Linked DNA regions of Homo sapiens. The protein of the gene in region 1 interacts with the protein of each later gene in a biochemical or structural test. Each region holds a gene or a part of one and is shown in the gene's direction. Other genes may lie near its edges. The genes, in order: RPE65 and SLC27A1.

Evidence for each region.
Region 2: the proteins of RPE65 (region 1) and SLC27A1 form a complex in vitro, tested with the Homo sapiens proteins (one study listed by BioGRID).

What each region holds. Positions count from the first base shown.
Region 1 is NC_000001.11:68,439,843-68,446,954, reverse strand, and holds part of RPE65 (retinoid isomerohydrolase), read left to right. Parts: intron 1-94; coding exon 95-245; intron 246-2,071; coding exon 2,072-2,179; intron 2,180-2,282; coding exon 2,283-2,424; coding exon of another isoform or gene 2,425-2,445; exon of another isoform or gene 2,446-4,507; intron 4,508-5,954; coding exon 5,955-6,102; intron 6,103-7,112.
Region 2 is NC_000019.10:17,488,882-17,505,054, forward strand, and holds part of SLC27A1 (long-chain fatty acid transport protein 1), read left to right. Parts: coding exon 1-58; intron 59-108; exon of another isoform or gene 109-126; coding exon 127-236; intron 237-2,194; exon of another isoform or gene 2,195-2,316; intron 2,317-2,511; coding exon of another isoform or gene 2,512-2,547; intron 2,548-8,373; coding exon 8,374-8,583; intron 8,584-11,396; coding exon 11,397-11,523; intron 11,524-11,613; coding exon 11,614-11,751; intron 11,752-11,830; coding exon 11,831-11,995; intron 11,996-12,391; coding exon 12,392-12,538; intron 12,539-15,573; coding exon 15,574-15,731; 3' UTR 15,732-16,173. UniProt on the Homo sapiens protein: Mediates the import of long-chain fatty acids (LCFA) into the cell by facilitating their transport at the plasma membrane.

The sequences.
Region 1 (7,112 bases):
CCCAATCAGGCTGCTGATATACTCTGCCTTACCAAGGACAAGCCTAGCCCAAGGCAGGGATAAGAAGCAATGTTCTGTCTCCCCTTCATCACAGGCAGGATCCCCCTCTGGCTCACCGGCAGTCTCCTTCGATGTGGGCCAGGACTCTTTGAAGTTGGATCTGAGCCATTTTACCACCTGTTTGATGGGCAAGCCCTCCTGCACAAGTTTGACTTTAAAGAAGGACATGTCACATACCACAGAAGGTAAAGCAGCACTCCATGCCACTCCTCCTCCTCAAAGTAGGGCCTAGCTTGGCTCCTCCTCCCATGTGAGTTTTCACCTCTGAACTCAGGAGGCAACCTATATACCCACTTTCTTCTCACAATGTACCTGGGCCAGTGTGTCTGCATGGATACGAGGGAACATTATCATGGAATAAAGGAGAAGCTAAAGCCTAGGGCTTTGGGGTCCAACATGAGTGGCTTTAAACCCTGTATTCAACAGACATGACTTGCCTAGGAGGGTAACCTTGGCAAGATGTTGACCTCCAATTCTTGGTTTTATAATTAGTAAAATGGGAGAAATAATAGAATCTACCTTATATATTCATTACAAGCATTAAATGAGAGCGCAGTGTCTAGCACACACAAAGCACTTCATAATAATAGCTATTGTGATGCTTGTTATTATTATTAAACCATTGGCCATCTTGATTCCTTTTTCTTTTTATAAAATTGGAAAGGCCACTGGGAAAGGGGTCGGGGGCTGCCACAAAGTAGTGAAGGATGAAACATGTCATAGTGCTACCAGAAAGAGAAGTTTTCTGAAAACAAGAGATTATTGCTAAAAAGCCTTGAAGCCCTAAATCATCATTCCAGGAAACCCCCATTAATGAAGTATTAACAAATACTTTGTCTTCTGCTTTCGTGTTCAAGCCTATTAGTGGCTTTGTTGATCACCACAGATTTCAGGCATTTTGAAAAGACCTGTAAAGAAAAAGTGAAAGGGGACTTGAAGCAGGACAACTTGCATGATAATAGAAGAGAAACGGATGATGTCAAGCAGAAATGTAGCCATAAGAGCTTACTGTGGAGTTCAGATAAAGCTTCCTATACCTTCGACAGAGCAGGGTACTCTTTCTTCTTCATAAAAGTGCGACCGGGTGTGGGTGGCTCACATCTGTAATCCCAGCACTTTGGGAGGCCAAGGCGGCCAGATCACTTGAGGTCAGGAGTTTGAGACCAGCCTGGCTAGCATGGTGAAACCCCGTCTCTACTAAAAATACAGAAAAATTAGCCGGGCGTGGTGGTACACGCCTGTAGTCCCAGCTACCTGGGAGGCTGAGGCAAGAGTATAGCTTGAACCCAGGAGGCGGAGGTTGCAGTGAGCCAAGATTGCGCCACTGCACTCCAGCCTGGGCAACAGAGCAAGACTCCATCTCAAATTAATTAATTAATTAATTAATTAAAAGTACAAAATCAGATTTTAACTGGCTCTCCATATCAGAAATCCTGGGCAAAGTATGCTGTCTACTCTAAGATATGGTTTAGCAGACCTGTCTAGGCAAGAGATGGAATTCAAGAATACTTAATTTTTAAAACAAAATAAATGTTAAAATTGAAGAAAAACATAAAAGTAACAGAGGGAGATTGAGAAGAATATAATTCAGCACACCATGTCCGGAATTTTCCCAGTAAGTTTAGGTTGATAGGTTATAGGTGATGGGGGTGGGGGTCCTATGTGAACTTCCCCCAGGGCTGCATGGTGTGATATAGAAAGTTCATGTTGTCCTGCTCTGGCCAACTAGGATTCTAACCCAGCTTGGCCACATATGCCAATCACTTAACTCCTCTGAACCTCAATTTCCTCATCTGTGAGGTTTAAAAGATAAAAACGTAAACTCAAGGGACATTGTGTCTGCCCTGCTTGGTCACCCCAAGAAAGTGAGCTAATAAAACCCTTTATTCTTCATGTTGTGCATTTATGATTGTGACTTGATGAGGACACATAGAATGGCCATTCTAAGCTCCACATGGGCTGTACGGATTGCTCCTGTCTATACTCTTCCCTATGTTTCAATGTCCTTCAGGTTCATCCGCACTGATGCTTACGTACGGGCAATGACTGAGAAAAGGATCGTCATAACAGAATTTGGCACCTGTGCTTTCCCAGATCCCTGCAAGAATATATTTTCCAGGTTACTGAACCCAAACTGAATGTTACTCAAGACATTTTATATTAGCCCTTTTTCTCTCATGGCTTGAAAATTACTGGACTGAAAAATTCATTTGTTTCTACAGGTTTTTTTCTTACTTTCGAGGAGTAGAGGTTACTGACAATGCCCTTGTTAATGTCTACCCAGTGGGGGAAGATTACTACGCTTGCACAGAGACCAACTTTATTACAAAGATTAATCCAGAGACCTTGGAGACAATTAAGCAGGTGGGACACAGTGCTAGGTGATGTTCAGGAATTTAGAATTTGGAACTTAAAATTAATTCAACATAAATTATTCATGCTGCGAATGTATGATTCTAACTTGATGAGGACACACAGAATGACCATTCCAAGCTCCAAATGGACTGCACTGATTGCCTCTGTCTATGATGCTTTCCTGCAATTGGTGTAATTTGGTGAAAAGAACATGAGAGCCACATTAAGTTTCAAATCCTAGCATTGTCAACAATGACTAGCTATTTGACATAGGACAAACATTGTTTCTTCATCTCTAAAATTTTAAACACTTACATGGATTGGAGAGAACCCATATAAAATGCCTAACATATTCATTCATTCATTCATGACACAAATACTTATCAAGTGCTTTCCATATTCAGAATTTATGCTAGATGCAAGGGATAGATCAATGAGTAGGGTAACATGGTCCCTGCCTTTCATAGCTTTTATAAGCTAGCATGAACCTGGTAAATACTGGGTGCTCAAAAAATTATAGCTACTGATACTGAAAATCATGCTATTTATGGTTCTAGGCAAGTATGTTGCACTAATTTGCCCCTTCTTATAGATACTTCTTATTAGAAATAAAGCTATATCTTGAATGAAATAGCATAGAACAAAATTTCAGCAATATTTGGAAGTGACAAATTTTATGGAGAACTTAGGGAATCTCAATGCAGCAGTCCTTAGATACACATTTTGAACCAATATTTACTAAGATACACCTATTTACAAGGCATTGTTCTTGTCTTCAGGTGACTTAATGTCTAGGTGGAGAAATCAAATATGTAACTGTAATAGGACAAAGAATATGACGAGTCTTTTAAGAAGGAAAATCTTTTAAGAAAGCATAAATACGAAAGGAATTACTTCTGGAAGTAGTTGGCAATGCAAGGTGGGACAGGTGAAAGAAGGCTTAAAGGGAAAGGCTTTGGGCTGGAAGTTAAAAGAGAGGGATGATTTCAGTGAATTTAGAGAAAGGATATGCTAGATGGAGGGGGTAAAGCGATCAAAAGCATGGAGGTAGAAGGTGTTCATGAAAACTGGAGAATAATCTCCTTGGACTAGACTTGCAGCATTTCTCAGTGGAGGTATTAGTATGACATTAGGCAGGGGGTGACTCATCATCATGGAGACGTCCCACACATGGGAGAGGTTTGGCATCCCTGGCCTCATCCACTAAACACCAGTCATGTTTTCAATCATTATACAAACCCAAAACGCTCCTGACATTTCCGTATCTTCCCCTAGGGGGCAATAACACTCCCAGTTGAGAACTAGTTGCCTAGAGTAGTTAATGTCAAGGGGAATATTGAGACACAGGGTAGGATGAAATTAAAAGCTTGAATAATTGGCTATACATTTGGAATATGTTGTTTAGCTAATGGGAAGCTACTGAAAGTTTTTGCTCAAAGAAGTAGTATGAGTAGGGCTATATTTTCAGATGTTTATTTGGGGAGCCATGTGTGGGCTGTACGGGAAGGCAAAAGAGATACAGTATAGCTGGGAGACCAAGAGGTGAAACTAAAAGCCAGAACCACAAATGCAGTACTGGTAAAAATAAGAAGAAAAAAAATAGTCTCAACATTGAGTCTCAATAGCACAAGCTGATCTATAATTCTCAACAGACTATTTACTATGTCTTAACATACACTCCCCATAGCTCTTTCTTGTTTATGTTGTGTGTGTGTAACCATATACAAGTGTGTGTGTAGCTCCTTTAGAGAAGAACAAAAGCTGAGTTTCTAAATCATTCATTTGACTTTGATAGGGAATCTGTATTACAATTACATGATATTTTAATTAGAAATATAGAAGCTATGGTATGGCTGCAGAATAGACTTTATTAGGAGTCAGGTTCCACTGTTACTAGCACTGTAAAATGTAATTTTAAAAATGTGAAATTTTTGATTGTTTACTGTTATTAACCAGTGCCTTTGCCTCCAGCCTGATTCCCTTAAATACAATTTATTTAAGGCAGCAGTAGCAATTTTTTAAAATATAAATATGAAAGTATTACTCCACCTAGGGAATCCATAACTTCCCAAATAAAGTCCAAGCGAAGGTCTTTGTGGCTGGCCCACTCTTATTTCGCCTCCTCTACGCATGCCCTTCATGGCAGCCAGGTTAAATGACTAGTAATGGCCAAACAGCACACATTATTTCACAAGTCTATGCATTTACATTAGGATTCCCACTCCCTGGAATACACTGTCATCCTGCTCCACTTGGCTAACTCCACGCACCTTTCAAACATTAGTTGGAGTCATGTTTCTCAGGAAAACTGCCTCATCCCTCAGTCTGGGCTAGATGGCGCTTCTCTACGATGCCATTGCACACTCACAGTGCTTTACACCGGCTTATTGGTCTAATGCAGGGCTGTCCAATAGAACTTTCTGCAATAATGGAAATGCTCTATAACTGTGCTATCCTGGTGTTATTAAGCACTTGAAATGTGGCTAATGTGACTGAGGAGCTGAATTTGAAGTTCTATCTAAAAATTAGTGGTCCTGTATTAATAGAACAGCACGGGTCTAGAATGAAGTTCTTGAAAGCAAAGATCTTCTCTCTCCTGAGCCCTGATACAGTGCCTGGCACATAGTGAAAGCTCAGAGTATTTGATAAATGATTGACTGAATAAATGAATATCTTGCCTATTATTTAAATAAGGTTGCTAAAATGTCCTATGCTTTAAAAAAATCTCCCTAATTAATTGGAAATAATTTTGGTTAGATAAATATATATTCCAGTAATTATTCATTCAATAACTCTTTACCAAGTAGGTCCCAGGTGGAAATCTAGTGCTGATTTATCTAGCTCTTTATCCTTAAACAAGACACTTGATCTCTCTGGAACCCCAATTTATCCTTCTGCAAACAGAGATTTGTGTTACATTTGTAGTTCTAAACTTCTTATGAGACATAAAATTGAATTAAATGCTGTATGCTTTTGCCAGAAATGTTTATATTTAATTAAAAGAGATCCATGGTTCTCCTAAAGTCTATTTAAATTAAGACTTTCTATACTAGATGAAGCTTGAAGTCCCTTTCAGTTCCAAACTCATACAGTACCATGTGCAAGACATATAGTTGGTATTTACATAGTACCATACGAAATTGACATTTTTGGAAATCAGCAATTATTAAATGTTAGCAATCTTATACAATTAAATCTAATACAATAATAAGAGTATAAAGAAGTCTGAGGACTCAAACTTATGGTTTCAGGTCAATCTGCATATGCTAAAAGAAAAGTAACTAACCAGAGCACTGTATGGTATACATCAAATAAAGAGATGTCACAGGTAACTCCAGATTCAGACACATGAGGGGGCATTATGTTCTGCATGAAGGTGGGAACTCAAGGTGAAAGAGGGTAGAATCCAGAGAGATGGGAAGAAAGAGAAGTGCACTTAGGATGAGAGTTCAAGGGGTAGTGATGACCTCAGACCTAGGGACAAAGGTATAATGTATCTTCCTTCTCTCAACTGGAGGACATTCACTTTACTTCCGTAGGTTGATCTTTGCAACTATGTCTCTGTCAATGGGGCCACTGCTCACCCCCACATTGAAAATGATGGAACCGTTTACAATATTGGTAATTGCTTTGGAAAAAATTTTTCAATTGCCTACAACATTGTAAAGATCCCACCACTGCAAGCAGGTGAGTTTACCAATCTGTCCTCTTCTGAAAATAAGTGTCTATATTGTGAGAAAGTTACTGTATTGTGAGAAAGATAAGAATGTCAGAATAGCATTTTGTGCATAGTTAAATTACTCTCAGACTTCAGAAGTACTGCCCTCATCCCTACCCTATAAGGGGCCTAATGCCCAAGGGCATCATATCAAAGGATGACGACTTGAAAATATAGAAAGCAAGTGTCCAAGTTCTCTTCTAGAATATTAAAAATGTAGTACATATATATATATGGATTTGATCATATACAATTAGGATTCAAACTTAGCAAACATTTATTGAGCACTTATTCATGTGCTAGGCAAAATTAAATTAAATAAGCATGTATGTGTGCATAATAGCATACATACATATATGAGAGTGTACTAAATATGTTGCGCTTAATTCCCAAAACTACAAACAAATCTGTTATCTCATAGAAGTACTATAGAAAAAGAACTACAGCAAAAAGAGTGTACCCTAGAATTCTCCATTCATTCTTCATTTATTGCCAGGTTCATTGTTCACCACCTTGATGATGGAATTATTTGAATGTATACAGATTTTTGTTTAGTATTATTTAGTACAGTTCTCAAAGTGTAGTCCTTGGACCAAGACCATCACCTAGGAAACTGTTAGAAATACAAATCTTGAGCCTTGTCCTGGGCAGACTGAATGAGAAATTTTGGGAGTGGAGCCTGCAATCAGTATTTTAAGAAACTCTTTATGTGATTCTGATGCACACTAAAGTTTGAGGACCATTCACTTACTAGTGAGTAAATTTTAATGTGCATAAGAATTACTGTACAGGGCTATTGACACAAACCCATCTAAACTATATCCTTTGGGCATCTTAAGATGTTGCAAAAGGCATTTTGACCATTCTGAGGTTTCTTCCCTACTCCCCTGACTTAAAACCCACCTCCAGCTATTGCAAGATGTGACTCCACTACACTCCACTTGCCACAACCCTATTTGAGTGCACGTTTCCAAATCTG
Region 2 (16,173 bases), on another chromosome or scaffold:
TACCGCATGCAGGCGGCTGACGTGCTCTATGACTGCCTGCCCCTGTACCACTCGGCAGGTACTACGGCCTGGGTAGGGAATGGTGGGTGGGGGCGGGGGACCCCTTACCAAGGCCACCCTCTGCAGGAAACATCATCGGCGTGGGGCAGTGTCTCATCTATGGGCTGACAGTCGTCCTCCGCAAGAAATTCTCGGCCAGCCGCTTCTGGGACGACTGCATCAAGTACAACTGCACGGTCAGGCCCTGCCCTGTTCTGTCTAGACCCCGCCCCTCCCAGCCAGGCCTCACCCCCTCCCAATCAGGCCCCACCTCCTCCCGGTGAGGCCCCGTACCTCCCAGCAAAGCCCCACCTCCTCCTGGTCAGGTCCCGTCCTCTCCCAGCCAGGCCCCGCCCCCCGACCAGGCTCTATTCCCTTAACTCCCTTATGTGCGCCCTCCTGTCCACCTGCTGGCGCAACCTGCTCCCCCGTCTCTAGGGGTGGGGTGGGGAGCGGGGCTTAAGGAATGGCTGTTCAGGATGGGGACAGAGAGGGCAAGTAGTGTTTCCTGAGTACCTGCTCTGTGTCCAGACCAGAGCTAAACCCTCCACGTGTAAACTCAATGCAATCCTATAACTTTGGAGGGTGGACCCATTTTGCAGCTGGGGAAACTAAGGCTTGTAATGCGGCTAGGATTGGGCCCAGGGTGCCTGAGCTCCTTAAGGCAATGCCTTCCCCATGCCTTGTGCCCTGTGGGTCTTCCCTGCTGCTGACTGTAGGGAATTGAGACCCTGGGATGGGAAGGGCGATGAGTCTGGGGCTTCCAGGTGAGGAACGCGTGAGGCGGAGGTGGAGGCATCTGCTGTCCCGGAGAGGAGAGCAGGCAGAGGTTAAGAACAGGAATTCTTCTTTCCCCTCCACAGTGAGAGGAGACCAGGCTGAGGGTTTCAGTGCTGTAATGTGGGGCAGGATACAGGAAATACAGGCGGGAGGTACAGGAAACAGGTATGGAGCCCGGAGGGAATAGCAAGGCTGACTGGGAAGGATTGGGTGAGAGGTTGTCCAGGGACTGTGGCAAGTTGGCAGATGCAGATTGGACAGATGGGGCCCAGAGAGATTCAGGCCAGGTCACACAGCTGAGCAGGGGTTGGGGGCTCTGGGCTGAGCATCTTGGGGTATACCACAAGGTCCACAGCTGTGCTTGGCTTCGCTTTTGAGGAGTTTTGGTTCTGTTTGGAGGGTCTTGGGAAAATTACTAATCTGCATGTTGAAATGCAAAAGTATATTTTTATTATTATTATTATTTTTTGAGACAGGATCTCACTCTGTTGCCCAGACTGGAGTGCAGTGGCGCTATCATGGCTCACTGCAGCTTTGACCTCCTGGGCTCAAGTGATCTTCCAGCATTGGCCTCCCAAGTAGCTGGGACTACAGGTGCGCACCACCACGCCTGGCCCACTTTTGAATTTTTTTTGTAGAGAAGAGGTTTCGCCATGTTGCCCAGGCTGGTCTCAAACTCCTGGGTTCAAGCAATCCACCCACCTCGGACTCCCAAAGTGCTGGGATTACAGGCATGAGCCACTGTACCCAGCCCAAAATTATCTTTTAAAAAAAATTACAGAGAGTAGCAAATACACATAAAAGTGGACAGAAAAGTATAGAGAGTTCTGGTGCACCCCTCAGCTGGACCCAGAGGCTATCAGATACCCTGTCCTGCCCCTCCCCACCTCCCCACATCCTCCCCTCGGTGATGGCATAAAGCATCCCTCAGACGGCATCATGTTTCCTGTGTAGCTGTTTCACTATAACCTTTGAAAGATGAGTACTTGTTTTTTCAAATTAAAGTGAAATTCATATAAATTAGCCATATTAAAGTGAAAAATTTGGCCAGGCACAGTGGCTCACGCCTGTAATCCCTGTACTTCGGGAGGCTGAGATGGGCAGATCACTTGAGGTCAGGAGTTTGAGACCAGCCTGGCCAACAGGGTGAAACCCTGTCTCTACTAAAAATACAGAAATGTAGCCTGGCGTGGTGGTTGGTGCCTGTAATCCCAGCTACTCGGGAGACTGAGGCGGAAGAATCGCTTGAACCCGGGAGGCAGAGGTTGCAGTGAGCCAAGATTGCACCACTGCACTCCAGCCTGGGCGTGACAGAGTGAGACTCCATCTCAAAAAAAAAAAAAAAAAAAATTTGGCCGGGCATGATGATACACACCTGTAATCCCAGCTGCCTGGAAGGCTGAGGCAGGAGAATCGCTTGAACCTGGGAAGCGGAGGCTGCAGTGAGCTGAGATCGGGCCACTGCACTCCAGTCTGGGTGACAGAGTGAGATTCCATCTTTAAAAAAAAAAAAAGTCAGTAATTTGGTGGCATTCACAATGTACAATCACCATGTCTATCTAGATCCAGAACATTCTCATGCCCCCCAAAGGAAATCCCATCCCCAGTTACTCCCCATCCCTCCACCCCCAGCCCCTGGCAACCACTATTCTGCTTCCTGCCTCTATGATTTGCCTGTTCTGGACATTTCAGATCAATGGAGTCAGACACTGTCGCCTTTTGTGTCTGGTAAGCATTGTTTTTAAGTGACAGTGATATCTCAGTGTCATCAGGAATCTGGGCAGTGGCTCAATTCTGTCTCACAATGTCAAAAATGTGTTTTTTCTTATTTCCATAATTAAATACACAACCAGCATTATGACTGGTTGATGTGTCTTGTAAGAATTCTTGGCTGAGCGCAATGGCTCATGCCTGTAATCCCAGCACTTTGGGAAGCCGAGGCGGGAGGATCGCTTGAGCCCAAGAGTTGTAGACCAGCCTGGGCAACATAGTGAGTCCCTCATCTCTACAAAAAAATTGAAAATCTAGCTGGTTGTGGTGGTTTGTGCCTGTAGTCCCAGCTGCTTGGGAGGCTGAGGTGGGAGGATTGCTTGAGCCCAGGAGGTCAAGGCTGCTGTCAGCCGTGATTGTGCCAGTGTACTCTAGCCTGGGCAACAGAGCAAGCCCCTATCTCAAAAAAATAAAAAAAAGAAAAGAAAAGAAAAGAAAATATTTCATCTGTAGGTGCCTTTTCTCTTTCTGTCTGTCTCTCTTCCCTCTTGGAATTTATTTATTACAGAAATTGAGATAGTGTCCAGAACAGGTTTGACTCTTAACATTTGGGGCTGGATCATTCCCTGGGGTGGGACGTGTCCTGTGCATTGTAGCATATATTTAGCAACATCCCTGGCCTCCCTGCACCAGATGCCAGTAGCAGTCCCCTTCCCCCAAGTTGTGACAATTAAAAAAATGTGTCTAGATGTTGCTAAGTGTCCCTGGGGGACAGAATGGTCCCCGCTTGAGAATCGCTGGTCTATATATTTTATCGGCTTCAAACTCAACTTTTTTGGCAAAGATTCCTTATGGGTGGTGTGGTGTCCTCCCACTGGGAAGCCCGTCATGTCTGATGGTCTCTCTTTGTCCTTGACACACCATCTTGCATTGGTTACTACTTACTGTCTCCTGGGCCTTGGAAGCTCATTCTGTCAGTTTCCTAGAAGTGGAATTTCTGTGTCAAATAAGGCACACAGTGAACATTGAGAGGCTTTTTAAGAAATAGAGGATGGGAAATTAGCTAGGCATGGTGGGCGCCTATAGTCCCAGTTATTTGGGAGGCTGAGGCGGGAGAATCCTGTGAACCCAGGAGGTGGAGGTTGCAGTGAGCCGAGATCGCACCACTGCACTCCAGCCTGGGTGACAAGAGTGAGACTCCATCTCAAAAAAAAAAAAAAAAAAAGAAAAAGAAATAGAGGACGGGGCCGGGCGCAGTGTCTTACGCCTGTAATCCCAGCACTTTGGGAGGCCGAGGCGGGTGGATCACCTGAGGTCTGGAGTTTGAGACCAGCCTGACCAACATGGAGAAACCCCATCTCTACTAAAAATACAAAAATTAGCAGGGCGTGGTGGCACATGCCTGTAATCCCAGCTACTCAGGAGGCTGAGGCAGGAGAATTGCTTGAACCCGGGAGGTGGAAGTTGCAGTGAGAGCCGAGATTGTGCCATTGCACTCCAGCCTGGGCAACGAGAGCGAAACTCCGTCTTAAAAAAAAAAAGAAAGAAATAGAGGATGGGAAATTAGCCAGGTGCGGTGGTGGGCACCTGTAGTCCCAGCTATTTGGGAGGCTGAGGCAGGAGAATCCTGTGAACCCAGGAGGTGGAGGTTGCAGTGAGCTGAGACTGTGCCACTGCACTCCAGCCTGGGCGACAGAGTGAGACTCCATCTCAAAAAAAAAAAAAGAAAAATAGAGGACAGGGCCGGGCGCGGCGGCTCACGCCTGTAATCCCAGCACTTTGGGAAGTCGAGGCAGGTGGATCACCTCAGGTCAGGAGTTCAAGACCAGCCTGGCCAACATGGTGAAACCCCATCTCTACAAAAACAATTAGCCATGCATGGTGGCGGGCACCTGTAGTCCCAGCTACCCGGGAGGCTGAGGCAGGAGAATCGTTTGAACCCGGGAAGTGGAGGTTGCAGTGAGCCGAGATCGCGCCACTGCACTCCAGACTGGGTGAGAGAGCACAACTCCATCTCAAAAAAAAAAAAAAAAAAAAAACAGGACAGAATCTCTAAAGGTGATGTTTAATAAGGACACAAGGAGAAAACAAGAGCATACATTTATTTGGGTTCAGAAATTACATCTCATGAGAAACTGCTCACTGCTATTTTATCTGTAGCAGCAGTTGCAGTCTAGCCATTCTCATGGGGGCAGCAGGCTATAATCTAGAACCTTACTTTTTTTTTTTTTTGAGACACAGTCTCGCTGCATCTCCCAGGCTGGAATGGAGTAGTGTGATCTCGGCTCACTGCAACCTCCTTCTCCTGGGTTCAAGTGATTCCCCTCCCTCAGCCTCCTGAGTAGCTGGGATTACAGGGGTCTACCACCAAGCCTAGCTAATTTTTTGTATTTTTAGTAGAGACGGGGTTTCACCATGTTGGCCAGGCTGGTCTCAAACTTCTGACCTCAGGTGATCTGCCTGCCCCAGCCTCCCAAACTGCTGGGATTACAGCCATGAGCCACAGCAGCCGGCTTTTGTTGCTTATTTCTTTCTTACTGTACACGTGCTAACAAAAAAGGGATGGTGGAGCCCCCAGGGTGGACATGCCCAGCCCCAGGTAGCTGTTTCTTTTTTTTTTTTTTTTGAGACGGAGTCTCGCTCTGTCTCCCAGGCTGGAGTGCAGTGGCGCAATCTTGGCTCACTGCAAGCTCCACCTCCTGGGTTCCCACCATTCTCCTGCCTCAGCCTCCTGAGTAGCTGGGACTACAGGCGCCCGCCACCACACCTGGCTAATTTTTTTTTTGTATTTTTTAGTACAGACAGGGTTTCACGGTGTTAGCCAGGATGGTCTCGATCTCCTGACCTCATGATCTGCCCACCTCGGCCTCCCAAAGTGCTGGGATTACAGGCGTGAGCCACCGTGCCTGGCCTTTTTCTTTTTCTTTTTCTTTTTGAGACGGAGTCTCACTCTGTTGCCCAGGCCAGAGTGCAGTGGTGCGATCTCAGTTCACTGCAACCTCCACCTCCTGGGTTCAGGTGATTCTCCTGCCTCAGGCTCCTGAATAGCTGGGATTACAGGTGTGTGCCACCACGCCTGGCTAATTTTGTATTTTTAGTAGAGATGGGGTTTCACCATGTTGGCCAGGCTGGTCTCGAACTCCTGACCTCAGGTGATCCACCCACCTTGGCCTCCGAAAGTGCTGAGATTACAGGCGTGAGCTACCGTGCCCGGCCACAGGTAGCCCTTTTTATCGGTGCAGCTGCTGGCATCCCCTGCTGCAAGCTTCCAGCTTCCTTATTTGTGTTTGCAGCCCAATCTTCCAGGCTGTTCTTTGTTAGAAAATAAGTGATTTCTTGGGCTGCTTTTTGTTAGAAGGGAAGTTCTACCGAGGATTTTTTGTTTCCAAAAAAAAAAAAAATAGGCAACGTAGAGTAGCTACTCACCTGCATAATAAGAGATTGGGTTGGGGGCTGCCAGAGATTTGCGCCCTATGCGGATGGCACATCTGGTCCTCACCGGTTTTTCACGGTCTATTTAGATCAGATACAGCCTCCCTGCTAGCTTGTCTGTAAAAATCCTTGCCTTTTTTTTTTTTCTGAGGCGGAGTCTCACTCTTGTCCCCAGGCTGGAGTACAATAGAGCGATCTTGGCTTACTGCAACCTCTGCCTCTCGGGTTCAAGAGATTCTCCTGCCTCAGCCTCCCAAGTAGCTGGGATTACAGGCACATGCCACCAGGTCTGGCAAAATTTTCTTGTATTTTTGTAGAGATGAGGTATTACTACATTGGCTAGGCTGGTCTCGAACTTCTGACCTGAAGTGATCTGCCCACCTCGGCCCCCCAAAGTGCTGGGATTACAGGCATGAGCCACCGCGCCCAGCCATGTGCCCATTTTTTTTTTTTTTTTGAGATGGAGTCTCGCTCTGTCGCCCAGGCTGGAGTGCAGTGGCGCGATCTCGGCCCACTGCAAGCTCCGCCTCCCGGGTTTACGCCATTCTCCTGCCTCAGCCTCCCGAGTAGCTGGGATTACAGGAGTGTGCCACCACGCCCGGCTAATTTTTTGTATTTTTTAGTAGAGACGGGGTTTCACCATGTTAGCCAGGATGGTCTCGATCTCCTGACCTCGTGATCCACCTGCTTTGGCCTCCCAAAGTGCTGGGATTACAGGCTTGAGCCACCCCGCCTGGCCGTGCCCATTCTTAAGCCAGTCATATTGGCTGAGGAGGGGCTGGGCTGATTGGCCAGGTTCTCTCCTAGAGATGGTGTGGGCTGTACCACACCTAAGGCAGTGGCCCAAGTCTGAGAATGGAGGGAGAGGACCCTCCCCCTTAGGGACCTGCTGTTGGTCAGCAGCCAGTGATCTTGGGTGCACTGCATTTCCTCTCTGGGCCTCAGTGCCTTCATCTCCAAGCTCAGCTCAGAGCATGGCGGTGGTGTCTGCTGATCATATTGGTTTAGTCATCAGCTATTTAGTCAGTACCTTCTCAGGGGCACAGCTGGGGGCACAGGGGATGCCTCTCAGTGACGTTTGAGCTGAGACTGAAGAGTTCAGGCAAATGCATCTGGGGGAAGACTGCTTCAGGCAAAAGGCTAGCATGTGCAAAGTCCCTGAGGAGGCAGAGTGTTCAGCGGAGATGGAGGGAGAGGAGGCAGCAGGGGCGGCAGGGCCAGATCCAGTTGGCCACAGGAAGAAATGTGGGTTTCATCCTGTGTGTGAGCGGGAAGCCCCGAGCACATTTGCAGCTGTTATGATCCATCTGGTGGGTAATCCCTGGCATGCAACTGTTTTATTCCCACTCTGGGGCCGGGATGCCTGGGTTCAAATCAAATTCTGCCACTTCCCAGCTCTGTGATCTCGTTCCAGTTCCTTACCATCTGTGAGCCTCGGTTTCTCCATCTGTAAAGTGGCGGGGGGGGAGTCATTCCGAAGCCCAACTGGAGATGAGAACTCTTAAAGGCACCGTGGGGCACCTGGTGGATGACCCCAGGAAGCTCTTGCGGGGCTTGAGAATGTGTGGCAGGGAGGGAAGATGTCCTGCAGGGGGAGCCCATGAGCAGGTGGCTCCGTGGGCACCTGGGGCTCAGTCCAGACGCAGCGCAGCCTAGTGGGTGCACCTGGGAGTGGTCTGCCCAGGGGTGACGCTCCGGCCAGCCCAGGCTCAGCCAGGGGGCTCTGGGTGACAGTGTAGGCTCCAGGCTGAGGGTTGCCCTGCGGGGTGCCAGCTCTCCTGCTAGTCCTGCCCTGTGTGCCTGCTGAGGCTCAGACAGGGATGTGGTATCTCCAGGAAGCTGCTTGGCAGAATCGAGGGACCACGAAGGGGTGCGGGTAGGGGGAGGAGGAAAGACACTGCATCTGCTTGGATAGAAGTTGCATCCGGCCAGGCACAAGTGGCTCACACCTGGAATCTCACACTTTGGGAGGCTGAGGCAGGAGGATTGCTTGAGGCCAGGAGTTCAAGACCAGCCTGGGCAACAGAGCGAGATCCCCCATCTCTACAAAAAAATCTGTAGTCCCAGCTACTCGGGAGGCTAAGGCTGGAAGATCACTTGAACCCAGGAGTTAGAGGCTGCAGTGAGCTGTGATCATGCCACTGCACTCCAGCCTGGGCGGCACAGGGAGACCCCCAACCAAAAAACAACAAAAAAAGCTGCATCCTAGACCCTTTGCAAGAGACTGAACGAGTCCTAGGAGTCAATGTGGTCCCTAATGGAGTGTGGACGATTCTGCAGCCATCATCATCCTTAGGCTGTTCCGCTCATAGGATTAGCTCCCTGGGTGGGGCGGTCTCGGGGTCTCTCCTCTGATCCGGGCTCCCCACCGCCTGCCGGTCCCATCACCCACTTCCTCACCCCGTCCCCCAGGTGGTTCAGTACATCGGGGAGATCTGCCGCTACCTGCTGAAGCAGCCGGTGCGCGAGGCGGAGAGGCGACACCGCGTGCGCCTGGCGGTGGGGAACGGGCTGCGTCCTGCCATCTGGGAGGAGTTCACGGAGCGCTTCGGCGTACGCCAAATCGGGGAGTTCTACGGCGCCACCGAGTGCAACTGCAGCATTGCCAACATGGACGGCAAGGTGCACACCGGCAGGGCCCCGGGGCAGGTCTCGGAGTTCAGGGAAGACCACTGTCTCCTCTTCCTGGGGCCCCTGGGATACATAAAACAGCCTGGACTGGCGCGGAAGGCTCCGCCAAGGCGCACGCAGGGCGGGGTGTAAGGGGAGTTCCTGGGACTCCCGGTGCACCACCAGAGGGACAATCCTGCAGCCTGCACAGATAGTCATGTGACTGTGGTCCTTGGGTCAGGAGAGTTGGAGGATAGGTATGGCTGTGCGCCCTGGCAAGTGCCTCAGCCTTTCTGAGCCTCAGTTTCTGCGTGTGGAGATTAGCAAGGAGAATAGGGCTCTGTGTACCGTGCTGTTATTTTGTTGTTGTTGTTTGAGACAGAGTCTCGCTCTGTCGCCCAGGCTGGAGTGCAGCCACGTGATCATAGCTCACTGTAGCTTTCAGTTCCTGAGCTCAAGCAATCCTCCTGCCTCAGCCTCCCAAGTAGCAGCAAACAGATACCTTCATAATTAGCAACTACTTACTCTCTTAATCATCTCCATTCTCCGCTTGCATGAATCTCCCTCTCCTTTCCCAAGCCCCTCCCATCCAAGGCCAAGAACAGACCGTAATAATGATCATAAAGCAAATGTCGGCTGGGCACAGTGGCTCACACCTGTAATCCTAACACTTTGGGAGGCTGAGGCAGGAGGATCACTTGAGCCCAGGAGTTTGAGACCAGCATAGCCAATGTAGTGAGACCCCCTTTTCTACAGAAAATAAAAAATTAGCCAGGCATGGTGGCAGGTGCCTGTAGTCAATGCTACTAAGGAGGCTGAGGCGGGAGGATCACGTGAGCTCACGAGATCGAGGCTGCAGTGAGCTATGATTACACCACTGGACTCCAGCCTGGGCAACAGAGTGAGACTCTGTGTCTCTAAAAAGGAAAAAAAAAAACAGCAAGTGCCATGGGGGCTGGGTCCTTAATGCCAAGAACAATGCTCCTTCCTCAGTGTGCTTGGTGTTGGATGGCCAGCCCCCAGGGCACTTTTGCTCACTGTAGCTCAGATTCTTGCATAGGAAACACACCAGGCCAGGCACGGTGGCTCACGCCTGTAGGGTCCAGCCCCACAGGGTCGGTGGGTTTTTCTCCCTGTGTGCGGAGACGAGAGATTGTAGAAATAAAGACACAAGACAAAGAGATGAAAGAAAAGACAGCTGGGCCCGGGGGACCACTACCACCAAGAGGCGGAGACCGGTAGAGGCCCCGAATGTCTGGCTGCACTGTTATTTACTGGATACAAAGCAAAAGGGGCAGGGTAAAGAGTGTGAGTCATCTCCAATGATAGGTAAGGTCACGTGGGTCATGCGTCCACTGGACAGGGGGCCCTTCCCTGCCTGGCAGCCGAGGCAGAGGCAGAGAGAGGGAGAGAGAGAGAAAGACAGCTTATGCCATTATTTCTGCATATCAGAGACTTTTAGTACTTTCACTAATTTTGCTACTGTTATCTAGAAGGCAGAGCCAGGTGTACAGGATGGAACATGAAGGCGGACTAGGAGCATGACCACTGAAGCACAGCATCACAGGGAGACGGTTAGGCCTCCGGATAACTGTGGGCAAGCCTGACTGATGTCAGGCCCTCCACAAGAGGTGGAGGAGTAGAGTCTTCTCTAAACTCCCCGGGGGAAAGGGAGACTCCCTTTCCCGGTCCACTAAGTAGCAGGTGTTTTTCCTTGACACTAAGGCTACCGCTAGACTAGACTTCCCAGACGCTGGCGTCACCGCTAGACCAAGGAACCCTCTGGTGGCCCTGTCCGGGCATAACAGAAGGCTCGCACTCTTGTCTTCTGGTCACTACTCACTGTGTCCCCTCAGCTCCTATCTCTCTATGGCCCGGTTTTTTCTAGGTTATGATTACAGAGCGAGGATTATTATAATACTGGAATAAAGAGTAATTGCTACAAACTGATGACTAATGATATTCATATATAATCATGTCTATGATCTAGATCTAGTATAACTCTTGTTGTTTTATATATTTTATTATACTGGAATGGCTCGTGCCCTCGGTCTCTTGCCTCGGCACCTGGGTAGCTTGCCACCCACACACGCCTGTAATCCCAGCACTTTGGGAGGCTGAGGTGGGTGGATCACTTGAGGTCACGAGTTCGAGACCAGTCTGGCCAACATGGCAAAACCCCATCTCTACTAAAAATACAAAAAAAAAAAAAATTGTTTGGGCTCAGTGGCATGCGCCTGTAATCCCAGACTCAGGAGGCTGAGGCATAAGAACCACTTGAACGTGGGAGGCAGAGGTTACAGTGAGCGAAGATTGCGCCACTGCATTCCAGCCTAGGCGACAGAGTAAGACTCTATAAAAAAAGGAAGGAAGGAAGGAAGGGAGGAACGGAGGAAGGGGGAAAAGCAGAAAGAAACACACCAGACAGGGTGTAGTGGCTCAAACATGTTGGAGAAGCATTTCTGTTCATAGAACCATGCCAAGCAGGGCGGCGGGCAGCAGGTGAAGCTCTGCAGTGTCTGACGTAGCTGTAGTGTCCACACAGAGGCATCTACTTCCTGCCAGCATGGAGGGTTTTGTGGATCAGGAAGTGGGTGCCAGCCAGAGGTCTTCTCTTGACTGAATGCAGGCTGGGAAGGTGGGAGGAGGGGCCCTGAGTTGGAGGCGACGCTTACTACCCTGCTTTTGCAGATCAGCCAAGGTCACAGAGCTTAGAATGACACTGGAGGTGCTAGGTCCAAGCCCCAGGGCAAGGCAGGCAAAGTGTTACTGAGAAGGACCCCGCATATCCCCGGCTCCTTCCAACTCAGTTCACCCCATTCCAGGTCGGCTCCTGTGGTTTCAACAGCCGCATCCTGCCCCACGTGTACCCCATCCGGCTGGTGAAGGTCAATGAGGACACAATGGAGCTGCTGCGGGATGCCCAGGGCCTCTGCATCCCCTGCCAGGCCGGTGAGCAGGGCCCCCGCATGGTCCCCACCCGGAGCAGGGGTCCCCACGCCCTGCCTGCCTAGCGCAGCCTGAACATGGCCTTCTCCCTAGGGGAGCCTGGCCTCCTTGTGGGTCAGATCAACCAACAGGACCCGCTGCGCCGCTTCGATGGCTATGTCAGCGAGAGCGCCACCAGCAAGAAGATCGCCCACAGCGTCTTCAGCAAGGGCGACAGCGCCTACCTCTCAGGTGCGCAGCCTGCTAGGCCCCGGTGACTGGCTGTGCGGATGGGGATCCTCCACCCATCTGCCCCTCTCCCCTCTGCCAGGTGACGTGCTAGTGATGGATGAGCTGGGCTACATGTACTTCCGGGACCGTAGCGGGGACACCTTCCGCTGGCGAGGGGAGAACGTCTCCACCACCGAGGTGGAGGGCGTGCTGAGCCGCCTGCTGGGCCAGACAGACGTGGCCGTCTATGGGGTGGCTGTTCCAGGCAAGCTGGGGTTGCAGGGGGTGGTCCTGAGGCATGGTCCTGAGGGAGCTCAGCCAAAAGGGGCTTAGAAGTACACATGCCTTTGGGCAGTGCACAACCTGGACAACTGCTCATGGCAGCCCAGGAGGAAGCACTGGATCTGGAGCCAGTTCACCTGGGTGATGTTGAGCCTCAGTTTTGTCATCCAGAAAATGGGATCATGAAAGCCCACCTGTCTTAGGGCTTCAATGAGCCAAGCAGGAGCTCCACAAAATGTGTGGCTGCTTCCATAAATGTCATCCCAGGTTGGGAGAGACTGGAGATTACAGACCAGGGGCTACTGCTTGACAGTGTATCTGGTCCTGCTGGTGGGGAGGATGAGAGGCGGGGTGTCCTCAGCTGAGCCTCTGCCTCCAGGAGTGGAGGGTAAGGCAGGGATGGCGGCCGTCGCAGACCCCCACAGCCTGCTGGACCCCAACGCGATATACCAGGAGCTGCAGAAGGTGCTGGCACCCTATGCCCGGCCCATCTTCCTGCGCCTCCTGCCCCAGGTGGACACCACAGGTGCGAGTCTCCCCCACTCCAATCTCTCTCTTCATCCATCAGTGTGTCTGTTGATTCATGTCTTGGTCCATTTTGTGTTGCTCTAAAAGAATACCTGGCCGGGGCCAGGCACGGTGGCTCACGCCTGTAATCCCAGCACTTTGGGAGGCCGAGGCGGGCGGATCACGAGGTGAGGAGATCGAGAGCATCCCGGCTAACACAGTGAAACCCTGTCTCTACTAAAAATACAAAAAATTAGCCGGGCACGGTTGCGGGTGCCTGTAGTCCCAGCTACTTGGGAGGCTGAGGCAGGAGAATGGCATGAACCTGGGAGGCGGAGTTTGCAGTGAGCCCAGATCACGCCACTGCACTCCAGCCTGGGCGATAGAGTGATACTCTGTCTCAAAAAAAAAAAAAAAAAAAGAATACCTGGCCGGGTGTGGTGGCTCCCGCCTGTAATCTCCGCACTTTGGGAGGCTGAGGCAGGTGGATCACCTGAGGTCAGGAGTTCGAGACCAGCCTGGCCAACATGGTGAAACTGTGTCTCTACTAAAAATACAAAAAAAAATTAGCCAGGCATGGTGGCATGCACTTGTAGTCCCAGCTACTCAGGAGGCTGAGGCAGAAGAATTGCTTGAACCTGGGAGGCAGAGGTTGCAGTGAGCCGAGATCAGGCCACTGCACTCCAGCCTGGGTGACAGAGTGAGACAATGTCTCAAAATAATAATAATAATTTCAACATGATTTTTGGTGCGGACAAACAAACCATATCCAAACCATTTACTCATCCTAGTTCAGGACAGTGTCCTGGGACTGACACAAGGGCTCACAGCCAGCTAGCACTGTGGGCTCTCACGGGTCCCTTCTGCTGTTTTATTTTAGTAGTTATTTATTTCCATTCCTCACTTCCACTGCCACTAAGCATTCTGAAATAGTGTTTTTTTTGTTTTTTTTTTTTTTTTTTTTTTTTTGAGATGGAGTCTTGCTCTGTCACCCAGGCTGGAGTGCAGTGGCGTGATCTTGGCTCACTGCAACCTCTACCTCCTGGGTTCAAGCGATTCTCCTGCCTCAGCCTCCTGAATAGCTGGGATTACAGGTGTGCACCACCATGCCCAGCTAATTTTTTTGTATTTTTAGTAGAGATCGAGTTTTACCATATTGGCCAGGCTGGTCTTGAACTCCTGACCTCAAGTGATCCACCTGCCTTGGCCTCCCAAAGTGTTGGGATTACACACATGAGCCACTGCACCCGGCCTCGGTGTATCTTTTCTTTTTCTTTTGTTTTTTTTGTTTGTTTGTTTGTTTGAGACAGGGTCTTACTCTGTTGCCCAGGCTGGCATGCAGTGGCACTATCATAGCTCACTGCAGCCTCAGCCTCCTGGGTTCAAATGATCCTCCCACCTCAGCCTCTGGAGTAGCTAGGACTACAGGCAGGCACCACCATGCCTGACTAATTTTTTTGATTTTTTGTAGAGATGGGGTCTGTATTAGTCCATTCTCATGCTGCTAATAAAGACATATCCGAGACTGGGTAATTTATAAAGGAAAGAGGTTTAATGGAACTCACAGTTCCACATGGCTGGGATGGCCTCACCATCATGGCAGAAGACGAAGGAAAAGCAAAGGGACTTTTTAATGGTGGAGGGCAAGAGAGTGTGTGCAAGGGAACTCCCCTTTAAAAACCACCAAATAAAGCCATCAAATCTCGTGAGACCCCTTCACTATCATGAGAACAGCACGGGAAAGACCCACCCCCATGATTCAACTACCTCCCACCGGGTCCCTCCCACAACACGTGGGAAGTATGGGAGCTACAATTCAAGATGAGATTTGGGTGGGGACACAGCCAAAATATATCAGGGTCTCACTGTGTTGCCCAGGCTGGTCTCGCAGTCCTGGGCTCAGGCAAACTTTTTCTTAAAGGACCAGATAGTTAATATTTTCGGCTTTGCAGGCCATACAGCCTCGATTGCTATTCAACACTGCTATTCTTGTGCAAAAGCAGCCATAGACAATGTGCAAATGAATGAGCATGGCTGTGTGCCAATAAAACTTTATTTCTAAATTTTTATTTATTTTTTGAGACAAGATCTTGCTGTTGTCCAGGCTGGAATGCAATAATGCAATCATAGTTTACTGCAGTCTTCTCCTCCTGGGCTCAAGTGATTCTCCCACCTCAGCCTCCCAAGTAGCCGGAACTACACGCACGTGCCATGACACCCAGCTAATTTAAAAAAAAAAAAAAATTGTTGGCCGGGTGCGGTGGCTCACGCCTGTAATCCCAGCATTTTGAGAGGCCGAGGCGGGCAGATCACTTGAGGTCAGGAGTTCGAGACCAGCCTGGCCAACATAGTGAAACCCTGTCTCTACCAAAATTTTAAAAATTAGCCACGTGTGGTGGTGCACGCCTATAATCCCAGCTACTTGGGAGGCTGAGGCAGGAGAATCACTTGAATCCAGGAGGTGGAGGTTGCAGTGAGCCGAGATCACACCACTGCACTCCAGCCTGGGTGACAAAGCAAGACTATGTCTCAAAAAAAAAAAAAAAAAAAAAAAAAAGGGTTTTTGCAGAGACAGAGTCTCACTATGTTGCCCAGGCTGGTCTTAAACTCCTGGGCTCAAGCGACCCTCCTGCCTTGGCGTCCCAAAGTACTGAGATTATAGGCATGAGCCATTATTGTGCCCGGCCCCAGTAAAACTTTATTTACAAAAACAGGTGGAGGGCCAAATTTGGCCCACAGGATGTAAGTTGCTAAACTCTTATTCACTGTGTAACAGACACAGCCCTGCCTGTCATGTGGGGAATGGACACATGACCAGGCAGGGTGTACATTTTCTTGCCCTGGTGAGGAGTGGTTAGGGAGGCCTCACTGGAGGAGGGGGCATGAAGCCAGGATCTGACAGACAAGGGGGAATCAGGCAGGCAAAATGGGGAAGAACATTCCTGCCCAGGGGACAGCCTGTGGGAAGGTCCAGAGGTGCAGGAGAGGATATTGAGTTGAGGCCTCCCAGAAGCCACCTGCTCAGCCCTTATCTGCCCCCCATCCCCACTATAGGCACCTTCAAGATCCAGAAGACGAGGCTGCAGCGAGAGGGCTTTGACCCACGCCAGACCTCAGACCGGCTCTTCTTCCTGGACCTGAAGCAGGGCCACTACCTGCCCTTAAATGAGGCAGTCTACACTCGCATCTGCTCGGGCGCCTTCGCCCTCTGAAGCTGTTCCTCTACTGGCCACAAACTCTGGGCCTGGTGGGAGAGGCCAGCTTGAGCCAGACAGCGCTGCCCAGGGGTGGCCGCCTAGTACACACCCACCTGGCCGAGCTGTACCTGGCACGGCCCATCCTGGACTGAGAAACTGGAACCTCAGAGGAACCCGTGCCTCTCTGCTGCCTTGGTGCCCCTGTGTCTGCCTCCTCTCCCTGCTTTTCAGCCTCTGTCTCCTTCCATCCCTGTCCCTGTCTGGCCTTAACTCTTCCCTCTTTTTCTTTTCTTTCTTTCTTTCTTTTTTTTTTAAGATAGAGTCTCACTCTGCTGCCCGGGCTAGAGTGCAGTGGTGGGATCTCGGCTCACTGCAACCTCTGCCTCCTGGGGTTCAAGTGATCCTCCCACCTCAGCCTCCTGAGTAGCTGGGATTACAGGCACCCGCCACCACGTCC